Linked DNA regions of Homo sapiens: regions 1 and 3 are each linked to region 2. Evidence: fine-mapped expression QTL. A gene starts in region 2. Each other region holds a variant in brackets. All regions are shown on one strand. Distances are from middle to middle.

Evidence for each region. PIP is the estimated chance that this variant, and not a neighbour inherited with it, causes the effect.
Region 1: its variant is fine-mapped to the expression of ABCC2 in whole blood (TOPMed, PIP above 0.99).
Region 3: its variant is fine-mapped to the expression of ABCC2 in whole blood (TOPMed, PIP above 0.99).

Annotation. Positions count from the first base shown.
Region 1 is chr10:99,754,886-99,757,654 of GRCh38, reverse strand. CUTC (cutC copper transporter) reads right to left here. Exons shown (of 9, transcript NM_015960.3): 9 at 1,521-2,030. The coding sequence ends at 1,916. Among named protein-coding and RNA genes, the nearest start is that of CUTC, 24 kb to the right of the region's middle. The variant C/A (reference allele first, on the strand shown) is at 1,502.
Region 2 is chr10:99,781,068-99,783,836 of GRCh38, reverse strand. ABCC2 (ATP binding cassette subfamily C member 2) reads right to left here and starts at 1,197. Exons shown (of 32, transcript NM_000392.5): 1 at 960-1,197. The coding sequence starts at 992.
Region 3 is chr10:99,723,705-99,726,473 of GRCh38, reverse strand. It overlaps COX15 (cytochrome c oxidase assembly factor COX15), which reads left to right. Exons shown (of 9, transcript NM_078470.6): 5 at 2,351-2,518. Among named protein-coding and RNA genes, the nearest start is that of COX15, 7.0 kb to the left of the region's middle. The variant A/C (reference allele first, on the strand shown) is at 1,184.

The DNA of each region.
Region 1 (2,769 bases), 26 kb after region 2:
TTTCATATAAATCGTGTAGCCTCTCTAGGCTTCTTCCAATTTTCCTCTCTCCAGCCACTGTCCTCATTATACCAAAAAAGTCCAAAGATTAATAAATATTTAATATAAATAATTCTTTGTAAGACAGGAAAAGATGTGAATACCATCCTATTTCAGTATTTGGATTTCTTAAAACATCTGCATTATTTTTGTACTTCTGGATAATGTTCATATGATGTATTCCTTAATAGGACACATTTTAAGCAAAATAAGTTCACATTAAATCCATTTTATATCACATTTTTACTGCTTTCGCTTTAACTATGACTATGCCTTTAACCATGACTTTCTCCCTTGTCAGTACCTTATCCTAGTTCAGTGTTTCTTGACTATCATGTCTAAGGAGATTTTTTGGTCACTCCTTTTCCCTAAACACTCCTCTCTCCTGAAATTTTAATACCATAAATACACTGTATATTTGTTATGGACTGTATGTATATCTTGCTTTATACATAAAGAGGGGTTTGGATCATAATCCCCAAAGACACAATCCTGAATGCTATAATCCTGAATGTTGAAATCCTGAAAGATCAAAGTCCCTAAAATCTAGGCTGGGTGTGGTGGTTCAAGCCTGTAATCCCAGCGCTTTGGGAGGCTGAGCCAGGTAGATCATGAGGCCAGGAGTTCCAGATCAGCCTGGCCAACATGGCGAAACCCCATCTCTACTAAAAATATAAAAAATTAGTAGGGCATGGTGGCACACACCTGTAATCCCAGCTACTCAGGAGGTTGAGGCAGGAGAATCACTTGAACCCGGGAGGTGGAGGTTGCAGTGAGCCAAGATTGTGCCACTGCACTCCAACCTGGATGACAGAGTGAGACTCTGTCTCAAAAATAAATAAATAATAAATAAAGGCAAGACTCTTCATATAAACATTCATTAGTACACAATCTGTGCATGTTATTCAGAGGCTTCCTGGCCAAGGGGAAGCTCTTTATGCTTCAGTTACTCTCCTAAGATAGGAACAACAGTTCTATTATCAGTGTGTTGTTTGTGTAAAATGAGATTATAAATATGAAAGTGACAGACACAGGTAGTGATGAACTTTACCATTGGGACCTGGTCATAGGAAAAATATTTCATTACTAGAATCCATCTTTCCCATCTGTGACTTCAGTAGAAAGAAACTGCTGCTTTGATAACTTTCCTAACCCCCCTCTAGTTTTTACTATAGGTCTTTGAAAATTGTCAGATGGATCTTAGAGTTAAGCCATTTCTTTCCACTTGCAGGATAAGTAACCTGTTGAATGCCAGAGTTCACATCTGTCTTCGTAAGTCTAGGAACTTTGATATTCTGTTTCCAAGTCTGGGAATTTTCACACTGCACCATTTTACTCTGTACCCTTAGCATCTTGCCCAAAGCAGCATATCCAATCAGCACATAATAAAAAGAGAAAGTGTGGAACCAAATAAGACAACACTTTTCCTTTCATACTTGTAGGCTACAGGCTGTATTTAGTG[C/A]AAGAATAAGAGACTATACTGTAATAGTGGAAATTTTTATTTTACAAATGAAAAGTCAAAATACTGCTTTGAATTGACCCTTAAGTCACACTCTGAATTCATACCATGCAGTTAAAATTTTCCCAGTTCATCAATTAATTCCACTGAAAACAGACTAAGCTTCTGTCTATGGAAGAAGCACAGACCAGCTTTAACCATGATGACAATCACTGGTAAGACTAAGCAAAGGAAGTGACTGTATCTCTGTTTCAAATTCTTTTTCTTCTTGGGCACATTCTCCATGGCCATGTGAAACTTAAAACAAAGATTGCGACTGTCCTGGCCAGAGAAGAAGGTTAAAGCTGTGTCATAGAGAATTGCAGATTATAGTTCTACCTTCATCCTGTGATATCCATGTCTCTCAGAGAGGTCTGGCTACACCAGGATGTTCTTTGCGATAGCATTCAAAGTCCTTACTTTGGTCACATCTGTTACCTTTAGGGAATATTCTGAGCAAGAAAGTGAGGCTCCCATGGCAACAGATGAATTTCTGTAACAGAAATAATAAAGGAACAGATAATTATGTTATTAAATGGGCCCTCCTACTGCCGCTTCATTTTATAGACTATTTCATGATACAAGGGTAGGTCAAGTATGCTGGACTAGTATATTCCATAATTTTCATCAATTAATTACTTGAAACATCCAGCAGCTGAATCCACTGGACAGTATACTTGATTTTATATCTGGAATTGTAAGTTCTAAGGCTCTTGCTTCCTTTTTTTTTTTTTTTTCCTTTTTAAATTACAGGCATGTATCACCACGCCCAGCTAATTTTTTTGTACTTTTAGTAGAGATGGGGTGTCACCATGTTGGCCAGACTGGTCTCGAACTCCTGACCTCAAGTGATCCACCTGCCTTGGCCTCCCAAAGCGCTGGGATTACAGGTGTGAGCCACCTCACCCAGCCAGCCATCTTGCTTCTTTTACATTGTGTTTTTCCCAATTTATAAACAGAAATATTCAACTACTATTAAATTGTAAGAGTCTTCTTAAGTATTTAAAAAACCCCATATAATACTCACAATTTCTTAATGGTAATATAATTTCAAAATAACTGAAAACAGAGAACAAATGTGAGGGAAGACTAAGTACTAAAGGTAGGAGGGAGAAAAATGACTGACTCTTCCATCCTTACACCATAGTTATTAACTTTGCTACAGGAAATCATAGGCGAATGGGCACATGTGCATATCTGACTCATTTGAAGCTCAACTGCAGAATTTGTTT
Region 2 (2,769 bases):
AAGAATTCTCAAGAGATGGCCTGTCTAGATACTATAGCCCATGAAGATCCACCTTGCCGTGGTATACACTCCTGGCCTCGAGGGTCTTGGGACCCAGGTCCTTTCTAAGACACGAGGTGCTGCCCAGGTGCTCTGCTATCTCATCCCTGCCCCTCTCACCTCTATATAAGGTTATCAAATGTTAGAATTCAGAAGAATCACTTAAGATACTTAAACTACATTTATTGCCCCAGGTGATTCTGATGCTGAGGCTAGGAGTTTGCAGATGATACTTTCTCACCAAACCCTTACTAAAATCACTAAATCTAAGGTCCTTTTTTGTTTTCTATTCCACTAGACCTTTGATACTGTTGATTGGCCCCTATCTTGAAATTTTTTGCTATCTATGACTCCGTAATGTTACACTGTTCTTGTTCACCCTCTAAGTGGTGTCTCTTCTTTTCCTTAAAAACAATATTACCCAACTCTAGTTGTTCAAAAATTATTTCAATGCTCATGATGCCCAAAGTTGCATCCCTAGACTCAACTTCTAGTCCATATCATTAGTTGCCAGTTCTAGAACTTATCATTATCATTTCAACATCAACATGTCTCAGCAAGACTCAGTCACGGATCTTCTCTTCCTTCTACTAGCAAAGTATGCAACAACAATTCTCCTTCCTCACACGGATTAAATTGGAAGGTTTTTACCTGTTTCTCTTTAGAGAAGGCAATTTTGCGACTAGCTAGTACAAGAGTCTGATATAAAAAAACATATGACAGAGAATAATTTGCATTACATTTCCCAGATCTTATATCCTCTGGAGATATTATGAATTATGCTTTCTAAAAAGCCTGAGCTTTAGACCAATTGCACATCTAACATTTCTGGTTCTTGTTGGTGACCACCCTAAGTTAACTAACTACCACTTGTTCTGAGTCTGAGAAGAGTCAATATGAAGATAAATGTAATTTCTCACCCAAAAAGTAGAGTTGCAGAACTTCTCCAGCATGATTCCTGGACTGCGTCTGGAACGAAGACTCTTCTATTAATATGATTGTGTTGTTTCTTCTTTACTTGTTTCATCAAAGAAAGTGGAACAGGAATTATCTACCATTCTGATGTTCTCCGTAAAGGATGACCTTTCATCCCAACCATTTAATCGTTAACCTTGCCTAGATGCATGTTACATTGAAACAGTGGATGGACATGTGACTAAAAAGCCCTAGGGACAGGGAGACTCACCAGTTCCCAAAGTACAAGAGGCCTCTGTAGGAGTGGCCATACATAAAAGGAACCACTGAAAGATGTCAACAGAGCTGGCCAACAAATCAAGAGTGCACAGTCTTTCATTTTCCTAAGGACATATGACCCACAAAGGGCAGCATCAGTAGAGGGGCAGGCACCCCTAAATGTGCAGTTTCGCTTCTGCTGCAAGATCTTAGAGTTTATAGAAATGTGAAATATCCTTCTTCCTTAGATTTTTAATTAAAAATATAGAATCTAAAACATGGTTTAAACATGATGTAAACTTTCTTTGAAGAAGTCAGGTTATAAAATAGCTTATCCAGTGTGAGCCTATATGTTATATACATAATACAGGCTTTCAAAAGTTCTATTTGCCTGAGAGGTAGTATGCCAAATGGGAATGAAGCCTTTGCCAGGCATTGTAAATATGATATCATGATAAAACATCAGGGCCAGAGGAGAGGGGTGATTCTGTAAACAGAGTGGTGGCATCAGTCGCTAGAAACTGTCATCGACCCAACCTTTTCTTTTTTTGTTATTGTTTTTTGTTTTTTGAGACAGGGTCTTGGTCTGTTGCCTGAGCTAGAGTGCAGTGTTGCCATCATGATTCATTGCAGCCTTGACCTCATGGGTTCAAGCGATCTTCCTGCCTCAGCTTCCTGAGTAGCTGGGACTACAGGCACATGCCAACAAGCCCAGCTAATTAAAAAAATGTTTTCTGTAGGGACGGGGTCTCACTATGTTGCCCAGGCTGGTCTCAAACTCCAGGCTTCAACAATCCTTCTGCCTTGGCCTCCCAAAGGGCTGGGATTGCAGGCATGAGCTACCGTGCCCCACCTGACCCAACCTTTTGTACTGTCACTTAAATTGCTTTAAGAACATGCTTTTTTCATGATATCATGAACCACCCATGCGGTATCCTAGCTAAAACATAACCACCCATGCAGTATCCTAGCTAAAAAAAATTGGCCTTAAATCTGGTCAAATTCTAGATCTAACTACCGGATTATAAGAAACACAGGAACATGCTAAAGGACTCCATTGGAATGCAATTGTCAAAATCCAGAATGTGGGAGATTCTATAGTGCAAATGATTCCATTTTTTAATAAATAAATTAAAAGAAGGAAAGGAGTCAAAGGAACTTACAAATTACAAGAGAATCAAGAGGCATATCAGCCAAATGTGAATTGTATGGACCTTGTTACTGATTTTAAAAGTCAAGTATACACATAAAAAAAATGAAAAGGCAGCATTCAGTGTGGGAGAAAATATTTGCAGACCATATAACTGATGAAGAGTTAATATCCACAATATACTATAAGGAACTCATACAACTCAATAGCAAACATACACTAACAAATTAAAAAGTGGGCAAAGGACTTGAACAGACACTTTTCCAAAGAAGACATATAAATGGCCAACAGGTATATGACAACTGAATCAACTTCACAAGTCATCTGGAAAACACAAATCAAAACCACAGTTAGATACCACCTCATACCTATTAGGATGGCTATTACAAAAAAAAAAAAAAAACAAC
Region 3 (2,769 bases), 57 kb after region 2:
GAAAGCTATGATTTCTTTACCTGTAAATGGGGATAATAACAGTGCCACCATGTACAGTCGTGTAAATATTAAATGAGATAATCCATATTTAAAGTACTTAGCTTAGTGCCTGGAATCAGTAAAGCACTCAGTAGTATATTTTCATGTGCTGCAAGATGTAGTTTGTTTCCCATCATGGGTGTCTCCCTAGGTTCTTGTCTCTCCTCTTTTTCTAACTTGTCTGCTATAGGAAAGAGGGATCCCTGTGCTAGAATGCCACAGAAGCATACAGGAAAATTCCAAAAGAGAGAAACACTTTGTGGGATGAAGGATTGTAGAATACCCATGTAGCTGAGAGATATTCAGATATAAATGGCAATTAAAATCACGTAAGTTGAGCGCCTCTTAAGGAAAGACTCCCACAGTTAACAGGTTAGTACTGCTAGAATGATGAAAAAAAAAAAGTTGGGTGAAACTGAGCAACAAATTAAAAGAGAAGACACATAGGAGTATTTGGGTCAAGGTTTAGAGATCCTAAAGGAGATTATCAGGGCATCAAAGAAACATCAAAATTTAATCAGGAGGAAGCTAATTGGTTAATTTAACTCAGAAGTGGTAAGAAAATGAGTCAGTTAGAAGGGATTAAGGCCGGGTGCAGTGGCTCACACCTGTAATCCCAACACTTTCGGAAGCCAAGGTGGGGGATCAGGAGTTCCAGACCAGCCTGGCCAACATGGTAAAACCCTGTCTCTACCTAAAATACCAAAATTAGCTGGGCATGCTGGCGTGGGCCTGTAGTCCCAGCTATTTCGGAGGCTGAGGCAGAAGAATTGATTGAACCGGGGAGGCGGAGGTTGCAGCGAGCTGAGAGGTTGCACCACTGCACTCCAGCCTGGGCAACAGAGCAAGACTCTGGCTCAAAAAAAATAAATAAAGAAAGAAGGGATTAAGGAGGGAGATGAGAGAGAAGAAATAGAGGCAGCAGAAACAATAATCAAAGTCTAATAGTAACCAGAGAAAGGCATGTAGAACAAAATGAAAGTTAACATTTTAGAATTAGAAAAACAAGCCAACACTGAAAACACTATTAGGGAGGCAGAAATTAAAGATGTCAGATAAGGTATGGGAGAAGAAAGTGGGCTAGTGAATCAACTGTGTACGTCTTCATCTTTCAATGTCTCTTGCAGATGAAATCAAGGTAATT[A/C]GAATATCCAGGGTAATCTTGAAAGGGGAGAGAAATGCCCAAAAAGATTTCCTGAAGAGTATATATTTAGAAGTGGCAGAGTCCACCTCTTTGACCTGATTCTACTGGCAAGTGGGAGTGAAAGGGCTGTCTTATTTCATATGATTGGAACTAACAATTGTTTGGTTAATTGAAAAAGCCAGTTAAAGCAGAGAATCATAGAATATGATACATAACATAAACTTTTAAACTTAAATCTGTACGTTCATTACCAACTTTTACAAAATCAAGGCCTTTTCTTTGACTATGCGTCCCCAGATTGGCATTCAACTGCAGGTTTCTTATATCCCCATAAACTGTGGTTTTGCTTAAAGCGGAGTGGGAACTTAGATATTTGCAAAGCGATCTGCATGCAAAACCTTATTGATTTTTATGATTTTCCCCTGAAACTTTTATAATTGTCTTATTCCAACCTAACTTGACAGTAGATGTTTTTAAGCATTTACCTTTATTAAGTTTCTCCAAAACATTCAATCTAGTTTTATGAGATATATCCATGGACCTTTTTTTTTTTTTAAAGCTCATCAGCTACTGTTAGTGTTAGTGTATTTTATGCATGGCCCAAGACAATTCTTCCAGTGTGGCCCAGGGAAGCCAAAAGATCAGACACTTCTGATCTAAATAGTAGTTAAGTATTAATGGTGATATGTGAAGAACTGTGGATAAATCATGAATCTTGGGACACTGCGTATTGGGGAGGGTATGGAAAGAGGAGGGGTGGGGTAGAGAGTACTCCTGATAGCTCATTTCCTCAGTAAAGTTGAACAGATCAGGCCGGGTGTGGTGGCTTACGCCTGTAATACCAGCACTTTGGTAGGCTGAGGTGGGCGGATCACGAGGTCAAGAGATTGACACCATCTGGCCAACATGGTGAAACCCCATCTCTACTAAAAATACAAAAATTAGCCAGGCGTGGTGATGCGCAACTGTAGTCCCAGCCACTTGGGAGGCTGAGGCAGGAGAATCACTTGAACCTGGGAGGCGGAGATTGCAGTGAGCCAAGATCCCGCCACTGCACTCCAGCCTGGTGACAGAGTGAGACTCTGTCTCAAAAAAACAACAAAAAAAAGAAAGTTGAACAGATCATTTTAACCTTGTTTTGTTTGCTTCATCTCTTGGGGGTTCTAGGGTCTGTTGGGATGGTATATGGTGAAAAGTGGACTAGAAGAAAAATCAGACTCCCATGACATCCCTCGGGTCAGTCAGTACCGCCTTGCTGCCCACCTGGGATCAGCCCTGGTTCTTTATTGTGCCAGCTTGTGGACCTCACTGTCACTGCTACTCCCTCCGCACAAGGTAAGAGTTGTGTGCAAATATCTGTGTTCAAGACCCCGCTTTTGGTTCTTTTGGATATATATCTAGAAGTAGAATTGCTGGATCATATAGGAGTTGAATATTTTGCCAACATTTTCTATTGGCAAAGGTGAAACAAATTGAAAAATAGAGTGGGAGGGAGTACCAACAACAAGAAATATCCCAGTCGCTTTACCTCTGACTCCTAGAAGGGATGGTGGATGGCAAAGTGAGAAAGATCAGAACAGAGGTGT